2 separate regions of the Homo sapiens genome follow, and region 2 is linked to region 1. A link means that fine-mapping ties the variant in region 1 to the expression of a gene that starts in the linked region. Tissue or cell type: blood mononuclear cells. Region 1 holds a variant in brackets; the other region holds the start of a gene. All regions are shown on one strand. Distances are between the middles of the regions.

Region 1 (5,729 bases):
TGCCTCAGCCTCCCCAGTAGCTGGGATTACAGGCATGCACCACCATGCCCAGCTAATTTTATCTTTAGTAGAGACAAGGTTTCACCATGTTGGCCAGACTGGTCTGGAACTCCTGACCTCGTGATCCACCCGCCTCGGCCTCCCAAACTGCTGGGATTACAGGTGTGAGCCACCGCGCCCGGCCTTTTTTTTTTTTTTTTTTTTGAGACGGTGTCTTGCTCTGTTGCCCAGGCTGGAGTGCAGTGGCGTGATCTTGGCTCACTGTAACCTCCACCTCCCAGGTTGAAGCAATTCTCCTGCCTCAGCCTCCCGAGTAGCTGGGACTACAGGCACACGCCATCATGCCTGGCTAATTTTTGTATTTTTAGTAGAGGCAGAGTTTCACTATGTTGGCCAGGCTTGTCTCAAACTCCAGACCTCGTGATCAGCCCACCTTAGCCTCCCAAAGTGCTAGGATTACAGGCGTGAGCCACCGCGCCTAGCCTAAAAATTCTTTTTAAATTAGCTGGGCATGGTGGTGTGTGCCTATAGTCCCAGCTATTTAGGAGGCTGAGAGGGGAGAATATCATGAGCCTAAGAGTTGGAGTCTGCAGTGAGCTATGATCTCACTGCTGCACTCCATCCTGGGCCACAGAGCAAAACCCTGTCTCTAAACAAATAAAAAATAAATAAGGCCAAGTACAGTGGCTCATGCCTGTAAAACCAGCATGTTGGGAGGCCGAAGTGGGAGGATTGCTTGAGGCCAGGAGTTTGAGACCAGCCTGAGCAACATAGTGAGACCCCATCTCTACTTTAAAAATTATAAAAATCAACTGGGCATAGTGGAGCATACCTGTAGTCCCAGCTCCCCTTAAAAGGAGGCTAAGGAGGGAGGATTGCTTGAGCCCAGGAGGTCAGAGTTGCAGTGAGCTACGATTGTACCACTGCACTCCAACCTGGGCGAGAGTGAGACCATGTCTCAAAATAAACAAATAAAAGTAAAAAATAATTGGCCAGGCGCGGTGGCTCATGCCTGTAATCCCAGCACTTTGGGAGGCCAAGGCGGGCGGATCACAAGGTCAGGAGATCGAGACCATCCTGGCTAACATGATGAAACTCCGTCTCTACTAAAAATATTTAAAAAATTATCCAGGCGTGGTGGCAGGTGCCTGTAGTCCCAGCTACTCGGGAGGCTGAGGCAGGAGAATGGCGTGAACCCAGGAGGCGGAGCTTGCAGTGAGCCGAGATCGCGCCACTGCACTCCAGCCTGAGCGACTGAGCAAGACTCCATCTCAAAAAAAAAAAAAAGTAAAAAATAATTTTAAAATTATGCTTAAAAAAGCTTCTGTCTAGGCCCTCCTAGCGGCAGAGTCCCTCCGTCTGGCCCAATCCTTACCACACTGGGTTGAGAGTGTCGCAGTCTCCTCCCTCAGCCTGAGAACTTGAAGCCAAGTCCTCCTCAAATCCTCCTAGCATCACCCTAATACATGTCTTCATCCTTGCTCCTGCCACAGGCATGGATCGCAATGGGGTGCCCCCCTCTGCCAGAGGGGGCCCCCTGCCCCTGGAGATCATGTCTGGAGGGGGCACCCACAGGCCTCCCCGGGGCCCTCCGTCCACATCCCTGGGAGCCAGCAGACGACCCCGGGCACGTCCGCCCTCAGAGCACAACACAGAATTCCTCAACGTGCCTGACCAGGGCATGGCCGGGTAGGTGGGGTGGGAGGGCAGCTCCAGGAGGTGGGCAGGGGGTAGGGGAGTGTCTGGGGCTGTGACTCAAACCCCCTGTGCCCACAGCATGCAGAGGAAGCGCAGCGTGGGGCAACGGCCAGTGCCTGGTGTGGGCCGACCCAAGCCCCAGCCTCGGACACATGGTCCCAGGTGCCGGGCCCTATACCAGTACGTGGGCCAAGATGTGGACGAGCTGAGCTTCAACGTGAACGAGGTCATTGAGATCCTCATGGAAGGTGTGTGTACCAGGGCAGAAGCTGGGGTGAGGGGAGTGGTAAGAACCCTGACATCGGCCGGGCGCGGTGGCTCACGCCTGTAATCCCAGCATTTTGGGAGGCCAAGGCGGGCAGATCACGAGGTCAGGAGATCGAGACCATCCTGGCTAACACAGTGAAACCCCGTCTCTACTAAAAATACAAAAAATTAGCCGGGCGTGGTGGCGGGCGCCTGTAGTCCCAGCTACTCGGGAGGCTGAGGCAGGAGAATGGCATGAACCCGGGAGGCGGAGCTTGCAGTGAGCCGAGATTGCGCCAACACACTCCAGCCTGGGCGATAGAGCGAGACTCCGTCTCAAAAAAAAAAAAAAAAAGAACCCTGACTGACATTGCCAGGCAGACCCCACCACTGCACACCCTCCCCACGGGAGAACAGAGATAACAGATGGGCGAGGTGGCTCATACCTGTAATCCCAGCACTTTCAGTGGCTGAGGCAGGAGGATCACTTGAGGTCAGGAGTTTGAGACAAGCCTGGGCAACCTAGCAAGACCCCATCTCTACAAAAGATTTACAAAAAAAAAACTTTTAAAGAGTAGAAATGGCCGGATGCAGTGGCTCACACCTGTAATTCCAGCACTTTGGGAGGCTGAGGCAGGAGGATGGCTTAAGCCTAGGAGTTTAAGACCAGCCTGGACAACATAGGGAGTCCCCATGAACAAGATGGACAGACCAGGCATGAGAGCTTTCTCCAGGGCCAGCTAGGGGCACCTCAAGCTTTCCTCTCTCCCACAGATCCCTCGGGCTGGTGGAAGGGCCGGCTTCACGGCCAGGAGGGCCTTTTCCCAGGAAACTACGTGGAGAAGATCTGAGCTGGGCCCTGGGATACTGCCTTCTCTTTCGCCCGCCTATCTGCCTGCCGGCCTGGTGGGGAGCCAGGCCCTGCCAATGAGAGCCTCGTTTACCTGGGCTGCAATAGCCTAAAAGTCCAGTCCTTTGGCCTCCAGTCCTGCCCAGGCCCTGGGTCACCAGGTCACTGCTGCAGCCCCCGCCCCTGGGCCCTGGTCTTCCTCCAACATCACACCTGCTGCCCATTCTCCATTTCTGTGTGTGTCAAAGGGGACTAACAGCAGAATCTACCTCCCAACTGCCATGTGATTAAGAAATGGGTCTTGAGTCCTGTGCTGTTGGCAAAGTGCCAGGCACAGTTGGGGAGGGGGGGGTCCTTAACAAGCGTGACTTTGCTCATTCTGTCATCACTAAGGCAATAAACCTTTGCCAGGTGAAAGCACGAGTTAACTTACTAAGTGCCCAACAAGGACGATGTTTTCACAGCCCTGTGAGGTAGGAGCTGTGAAGGACCCCATCTTACAGGTGGAACAATGGAGGTTCAGAGAGGTTCACTGACCCAAGACTGCACAGAGCCATGCCTTGCATTCATATGTGACCATAAAGCTTGAATTTGTCCCAGTTTGGGCTGGGCGCAGTGGCTCACGCCTGTAATCCCAGCACTTTGGGAGGCTGAGGCGGGCAGATCACGTGAGACCAGGAGTTCAAGACCAGCCTGGATAACACAGCAAAACCCTGTTTCTACTAAAAATTTAAAAAAGAAAAAAAAAAAAGCCGGGTGTGGTGGTGCCTGCCTGTAATCCCAGCTACTGGGAAGGCTGAAGCAGGAGAATCACTTGAACCCGGGAGGCAGAGGCTGCCGTGAGCCGAGATCATGCCACTGCACTCCAGCCTGGGCAACAGAGCAAGACCCTGTCTCAGAAAAAAAGAAAGGAAGGAAGGGAGGGAGGGAGGGAGGAGGTGGGCGCGGTGCCTCACACCTGTAATCCTAGCACTTTGGGAGGCCGAGGCGGGCAGATCACAAGGTCAGGAGATCGAGACCATCCTGGCTAACATGGGGAAACCTTGTCTCTACTAAAAATACAAAAAAGTAGCCGGGCGTGGTGGCGGGCGCCTGTAGTCCCAGCTGCTCGGGAGGCTGAGGCAGGAAAATGGCATGAACCTGGGAGAAGGAGCTTGCAGTGAGCCGAGATTGCGCCACTGCCCTCCAGCCTGGGCAACAGAGCGAGACTCCATCTCAAAAAAAAAAAAAAGAAAGAAAAGAAAA[T/G]AAAGAATTTGTCTCAGTTTCCCTTCCAAAATCTGCATCCCAAATGGTCCAGCAGGTCCTGTTAGTCTTGAAGCTACAGCCGCCAAACCCATCTGGGACCTATGGAGAGAGGCAGGTCCCACATGCCACATGCTCCCACCCTCAATGCACTCTGGGTCACTCCTGCCCCCTGCACCCCAATCCCATTTCTGTGCCCTCTTAGTCTTCACCTAACTGGGACTAAGACTGGAGTCCTGCTATGGTCTGAGCCTAAAGATCCTGAATTTTGGGCTGGGCGCAGTGGCTCATGCCTGTAATCCCAGCACTTTGGGAGGCCAAGGCGGGCGGATCATCTGAGGTCAGGAGTTCCAGACCAGCCTCACCAACATGGTGAAACCCTGTCTCTACTAAAAATACAAAAATTAGCTGGGCATGGTGGCACGTGCCTGTAGTCCCTGATACTTGAGAGGCTGAGGCAGGAGGTGGAGGCTGCAGTGAGCCAAGACTGCACCATGGAATTCCAGTCTGAGCAATAGAGTGAGACTCTGTCTCAAAAAAAAAAAAAAATTCCTGAATTTTGGGAGTGGTGGTGCATGCCTGTAGTCCCAGCACTTTGTGAGGCCGAGGCTGGAGGATCACTTGATCCCGGGAGTTCAAGGCTGAAGTGAGCTATGATCGCGTCACTGCACTCCAGCCTGGGCAACTCAGCAAGACCCTGTCTCTAATACTAAAATAAACCAAATCCTGGCCAAGCATGGTGCCTCACAGCTGTAATCCCAGCACTTTGGGAGGCCAAGGCAGGAGGATCACTTAAGGTTTGACCACCCTAGGCAACCTACTAATACCCTGTCTCTACAAAAAAATTTTAAAATTGGCCGGGCACGGTGGGTCACACTTGTAATCCCAGCACTTTGGGAGGCCAAGGCGGGCAGATCATAAGGTCAGGAGATCGAGACCATCCTGGCTAACACAGTGAAACCCCATCTCTGCTAAAAATACAAAAAATTAGCCGGGCGTGATGGTGCGCGCCCGTGGTCCCAGCTACTCGGGAGGCTGAGGCAGCAGAATTGCTTGAACCTGGGAGGCGGAGGTTGCAGTGAGCCGAGATGGCGCCACTGCACCCCAGCCTGGGTGACAGAGTGAGACTCCATCTCAAAAAAAAAAAAAGCTAGTGTCATGCCTGTATTCCCAGATACTCAGGAGGCTGAGATGGGAGGATCACTTGAGCCCAGCAGGTCGAGGCTGCAGTGAGCTGATTACAACATTGTACTCCAGCCTGGGCAACAGAGCTAACCCTGTCTCTCTCTAAAAATAATAATAATAATAATAATAATAATAATTAATTGTAGCTTTCTAATATGGACACCCGCTCTGTGCTCAGCCCCTCAAAGAGAAGCCAGTCCAGTAGAGATGGGGCTGACTGGTGAGGTGAGGACTGGCCCACAGAAGCGAGGGGAATTCAGAGGTGGAATGGGCGTTGCAGCAGGAGCCAGGAAGGTGGGAGAGGGTCGGTCTCAGCAGATTTGGTTGACAAGCACTGCACAGAGTGATCTAAGCTGTGATGAGCGAACTGCGGGCACAGAATACCTACCCAACGGAAGAATGGGGCATCGGGAATCCCCAGTAGAGCCAGGAATCAAAGCAAGACTAGCAGCCGGGCACGGTGGCTCACGCCTGTAATCCCAGGGCTTTGGGAAGCTGAGGTGGGCAG
Region 2 (5,729 bases), 55 kb before region 1:
CACCCTGGCCATCACACTCTCCGTCACTCCGCATGCTCCAGCCACACCAGCCTCCCCGAACTTCCTCAATTGCCCTATGGTTTTCCCATATCTGGGCCTTTGCTTGAGCGCTTAGCATGGCCAGGTGCACGCTCCTGCCCCTTTACCTTTTTTAACTCCAGCTTACTCGCCGGTGTCAGCACAAACGTTGCCTCTTCCTAGAAGCCTCCCCTGATGGCCCCCAACAAAGTGGGGTCCTCTTACCCATTCATATTCACTCTTGAGTGCCTGGAGACATTGCTGAGAATTGCATGCCCCAAGCCCGTCAATTCTGCAAACTCGCTCAGGAGATTCCAGCAGAGACGGGCTCCTTCCCAGCTGTGGCCACTAGGGGCGCTGCATATTAACATCTTCAAGGGGGATGCGGGTTTATCGCCCTGGACCAAAGATAGATCTGAACATGGGTCCCCCAGGGTCTCCCAGGGTCGGGTCCTGCCTCGGCCACCTCCTTGCTGGGTGGTGTGGGGAAGTAACAACCTATTAGAACTGCCATTTCCTCACATGTCAAGAGGAGCCTCAGGTGGTTGGCTGGTGTCCCAAAGACCAGCTCATAGGCTGACACGTACCTGGGCCAGGCTCTGCTGGGGGGACCCACGTTCCCATTTTACAATGAGAAAAGGGAGTAACTAAGTCATCCAGGAAGTAGCCAAACTGGAGGCTGTTAAATCTAGATGTGACATCCAAAGTCAGGGACCTTTCAGATGCACCTGCTTCCCAGTACCCTCCACTTCTGCACACAAACACGTGTGACTTCTGAGGGTCATCTAAAGAGGGAGGTTGGGCCAGGCGTGGTGGCTTATGCCTGTAATCCCAGCACTTTGGGAGGCCGAGTTGGGAGGATCACCTGAGGTCAGGAGTTCAAGGCCGGCCTGGCCAACATGGCGAAATTCCGTCTCTACTAAAAATACAAATATTAGCCAGGTGTGGCGGTGGGCACCTGTAATCCCAGCTACTCAGGAGGCTGAGGCAGGAGAATCGCTTGAACCCAGGAGGCGGAGATTAAAGTAAGCTGAGATTGCACCACTGCATTCTAGCCTGGGTGACAGAGCTAGACTCCGTCTCAAAATAATAACAATAATAATAATGAAGGAGGTTGCCCAGGGATGCCCAGAGCAGACACAGCTGAAGAAGGCACCCTTCCCTGTTGTTGTTGTTTTTTTGGTTTTTTTGTTTTTTCTGGTTTGTTTTTAGAGACAGGGTCTCACTCTTTCGCCCAGGCTGGAGTGCAGTGGCGCAATCAGGGCTCACTGAGGCCTCCACCTCCCAGGTTCAAGCAATCCTCCCACCTCAGCCCTCTGAGTAGCTGGGACTGCAGGCTCATGCCACCATGCCCAGCTAATTTTTTTTCTTTTCATTTTTTGTAGAGATGGGGTCATGCTATATAGCCCAGGCTGGTCTCAAACTCCTGGACTCAAGCGATCCTCCAACCTTGGCCCCCCAAAGTATTGGGATTACAGGCGTGAGCCACCTCCCCTGGGCCCCTTCCTTGGTTTTAAAAAGAGACCCGGGAAGCCCAAATGCTTCCTGAATCGCCCTGAAAAGAGGTGGTTCGTCCTGCAGCCAGCTGACCCAAATGTTCCTGCAGCAGCCCTGTCCCCAAGGAGTTGGGGAAGAGGCCTCTGAGGTCCAGTAGTGGCTGCCATCAAGTTCTGACCCCTCCCTTCAGGCTCAGAGCCCCAAACAGCCAGCTCCCCGCCCCCCTCCACACCCAGCTTCCCTCCCCCATGGCCTCGGCCCCTCCCGCCAAAGGAAGTGAGAAGGGGCTGTTGTAAGAGGAACTAAAGCCGGGAGTCCGGTGAACGGGCAGAAGCAGGGCCATGCCCAAGCCACCCCCAAGATCCCCCTGAACCTGCACCTCCATCACGACCCATTCAGGAGCCTCCAGGAGCCCAGACACCAGCCCCCCACCATGGTAAGTCCTTCAAGGGTGGGATCTGGAAGAAGAAAGAGGAGGGACACCAGCCAGGTGGAGGTGTCCTAAAAATGACCATCAGAAATTGGGGTGAGGGGAGGGGCATGGTGGACTTCTGTGGGGGTGGGGTGTCTCTCAGTGCAGCTCAGGTGCCTCCAGCATCCCTTACCAGGGAGCAAGCTCCCATCTGTAGGTGGTGGGGATGCCAGGGTGGTATCCCTGGATCCAAGGATAGGGCAGGACCTGGAAGACAGAAGGTGGCCCAGGGAGAATCACAGAGTCTGCAGGGACAAGGACATAGCCTCCTTTGCTTGCAAATTAAGGGAGCCCTTTCCCAGTCCAGCCCAGTCTCTCGTCTCCCTGTGTAGCCTTGGGCTAGTCACTTCCCCTCTCTTGGCCCCGGTTCCCACAGATGTCATATTTGGAAATCCGTCTAGATGCGGAAGTTGCTCTTCAGGGGTCTTTCAGTTGCAACATTCTCAAGGTCTGTGGGTTCTGCCACAGAGTCCTCGGCTGAGATGGGAAGCTATGTCTAACAAGCGATGGGGTGGATTGACGCCCTCCCTGTGCCGGTGACGGGCGGTATGGCTGCAGCAGAGGCAGGAGAGGCTGAATACGTCCATGCCACCCTTTGGTGGGCATCCCTTATCCCAAGAGGAGGATGGCAGCCAGAGGTGTTGCTGCCTGTCAAGTCTGAGGTCTGTCGATGATAGCAACGGGGAGACTGTCGTGATCATGGCGCTATTCCTAGCAGTATCGTACCACCATAAGACGCAAAGTAAGAGGTGGCCAGGGCTGACCCCACCCCACAGCTCTCTGCTGTGTAGACCACTTCAGCTTTCATTTCTCGTCATTCAGTCAGTGAGGATGAGAGCATGTGGCTGTGACAGCGGCCACTGCAGGATTCTTGGCAGGTACAGCTTACTAGGGTGGAGTCAGGGACATAGGGCAAGAGGCAGAGGTGGTGTTAGTCTGAGAGACAACACCTTCTTTCAGGAAGCCAGTGAGGGCCAGGGACAGTGGCTCATGCCTGTAATCCCAGCATTTTAGGAGGCTGAGACAGGTAGATCACTTGAGGTCAGGTGTTCGAGACCAGCCTGGCCAACGTGGTGAAACCTCGTCTCTACTAAAAAATACAAAAAATTAACTGGGCGTGGTGGCACACGCCTGTAATCCCAGCTACATATGAGGCTGAGGCAAGAGAATAACTTGAACCCAGGAGGCGGAGGGTGCAGTGAGCTGAGATCCTGCCGCTGCACTCCAGCCTGGGTGACAGAGCACACTCCGTCTCAAAAAAGGAAAGCTGATGAGAAATTGGGCATCCCGGAATTCACACCCAAACCATCAGCTGGAGCTCTGAGACTGTTGGGGTGGGAATTCTTCCAAGATGAGAAGCAAGCCAGGGAGGCTCAGGTCCTGGGATGGGCAGGGCTTTGATCAAAAGAACACAGGAAGTGATTTGCTACTTGAAAGAAAGGCAACCCCTCCCCAAGGAAGCCCTCTGAAAATGCTTAGTCAACAGTCGGCTTGGCAGACAAGGTCTGGGAGGGGCCACCCGTATCGCAGAGGATGATAGAAGAGAAAAAAATGACACCCACCTCTGTCTGGGGATGCTGAAATCTTCCTGGAGGAGTGGTGAATGCCAGGAAGATCGCTGAAGGATTCAATGAAACAGTATTTCTGAAGTCCTTTACAACAGGGTCCCCAACCCCCGGGGTCATGGACTGCTATCGGGCCATGGTCTGTCTGTTAGAAACCATGAGCCCTATCGGGTCACAGAGCAGGAGATGAGTGGCAGGCAAGCAAGCCCGAGCTCCACCTCCTCTCAGATTCTCGGGGGCGCCATTAGATTATCACAGGATCGCAAACCCTGTTGTGAACTGCACACACGAGGGATCCAGGTTGCATGCTGCTTATGACAATCTAATGCCCGGCCGGGTGCGGTGGCTCACACCTGTAATCCTAGCACTTTGGGAGGCCGAGGCGGGCAGATCACGAAGTCAAGAGATAGAAACGATCCTGGCCAACGTGGTGAGACCCCGTCTCTCCTAAAAATACAAAAATGAGCTGGGTGTGGTGGCACATGCCTGTCATCCTAGCTACTCGGGAGGCTGAGGCAGGAGAATCGCTTGAACCCGGGAGGCGGAGGTTGCAGTGAGCCAAGATCACACCATTGCACTACAGCCTCGGCGACAGAGCCAGACTCCGTCTCAAAAAAAAAAAAAAAAGAAAAAGAAAATCTAATGCCGTTGGCAGGGTGCAGTGGCTCATGCCTGTAATCTCAACACTTTTGGAGGCCGAGGTGGGCGGATCACCTGAGGTCAAGAGTTCAAGACCAGCCTGGCCAACATGGCAAAACCCTGTCTCTACTAAAAATACAAAAATTAGCCAGTCGTGGTGGTGCGCGCCTGTAACCCCAGCTACCCGGGAACCTGAGATAGGAGAATCACTTGAACCCAGGAGGCAGAGGTCGCAATGAGACGAGATCACGCCACTGCACTCCAGCCTGGGCCACAGAGAGAGGCTCCATCTCAAAAAAAAAAGAAAGAGAGAGAGAAAGAAAGAAAGAAAAAGAAAGAAAGAAAGAGAAAGAAAAAGAAAGAAAGAGAGAAAGAGAAAGGAAGAAAGAAAGAAAGAGAGAAAGAAGAAAGAGAAAGAAAGGAAAGAAAGAAAGAAAGAAAGAAAGAAAGAAAGAAAGAAAGAAAGAAAGAGAGAGAGAGAGAGAGAGAAAGAAAGAAAGAAAGAAAGAAAGAAAGAAAGAAAGAAAGAAAGAAAGGGAAAAAAGAAGAAATAAAGGAAAAGAAAGAAAAGAAAATCTAATGCCCCGCTCCATGGTCCATGGAAAAATTGTCTTCCATTAAACCGGTCTCTGGTGCCAAAAATGTTGGGGACCATTGCTTTACAGAGCACATAACATGCACTTGATCCATGGTAGCTGCCATTAGCTGGGATGTCCATTCATTTCTGGATTCAGCAATGAGGATGGACGGAGGTGACGATTGTGGTAATTGGGGAGGAGTTGCTGCGAGTGGTCATTGCTGGGTTGTTGGTGTCATTGGTTGTGGTGGTGGTTGTGGCTGTTTCTTGTTGCAGGTTCGTGGTGATAATGGCTCTTGCAGGTGGGCTGGTGGTGGTGGCGGTTGGTGTTTAATGTTGTTCGTTGGTGGTGGATTGTTTTCAGCTGGAAATTCTGGAGATGCTTGGTGACCAGTGGAATGATGACCATCGGTGGTTGCTGTTATTTGGAGAGGAAAGGTGTTGGTAGTAGCGTTCATTTGCTGCTGGTAGTTTATTGTTGGTTTCTGGTAAGATGATGATCAGCAATGGTGGTGCTGGTTCAATGTTGGGTTTTGAACAGGATAGGACTGGTGACTGCTGCTTTCTGTGGTTGCTAATGGTAGTTGGTTATGTGTGGTTGTTGATGGCTAGTATTGTTTTTTTGTTTTGTTTTGTTTCTGAGACAGAGTCTCGCTCTGTCACCCCGGCTGGAGTGCAGTGGTGCAATCTCGGCTCACTGCAACCTCCACCTCCTGGCTTCAAGCAATTCTCGTGCCTCAGCCTCCCAAGTAGCTGAGATTACAAGCACCTGCCACCACACCCAGCTAATTTTTGTGCTTTTAGTGGAGACGGGGTTTCGCCATGTTGGCCAGGCTGGTCTCCAACTCCTAACCTCAAGTGATCCACCCGCTTTGGCCTCCCAAAGTGTGAGATTACAGGTGTGAGCCACTGTGCCTGGCCGATGACTAGATGGTGGTTGGTTATTATAGCGTGGTGGTGG

What was found. PIP is the estimated chance that this variant, and not a neighbour inherited with it, causes the effect.
Region 2: it holds the start of MYO1F, and the variant in region 1 is fine-mapped to the expression of MYO1F in blood mononuclear cells (TOPMed, PIP above 0.99).

What each region holds. Positions count from the first base shown.
Region 1 is chr19:8,518,594-8,524,322 of GRCh38, reverse strand. MYO1F (myosin IF) reads left to right here. Exons shown (of 28, transcript NM_012335.4): 26 at 1,494-1,689; 27 at 1,777-1,946; 28 at 2,719-3,545. The coding sequence ends at 2,795. Among named protein-coding and RNA genes, the nearest start is that of ZNF414, 7.3 kb to the right of the region's middle. RefSeq lists an enhancer at 1,147-1,646. The variant T/G (reference allele first, on the strand shown) is at 4,040.
Region 2 is chr19:8,573,529-8,579,257 of GRCh38, reverse strand. MYO1F (myosin IF) reads left to right here and starts at 1,816. Exons shown (of 28, transcript NM_012335.4): 1 at 1,816-1,951. The coding sequence starts at 1,949. RefSeq lists silencers at 290-484, 1,705-1,854, 2,392-2,441 and enhancers at 2,562-2,741, 2,912-2,971, 3,312-3,371.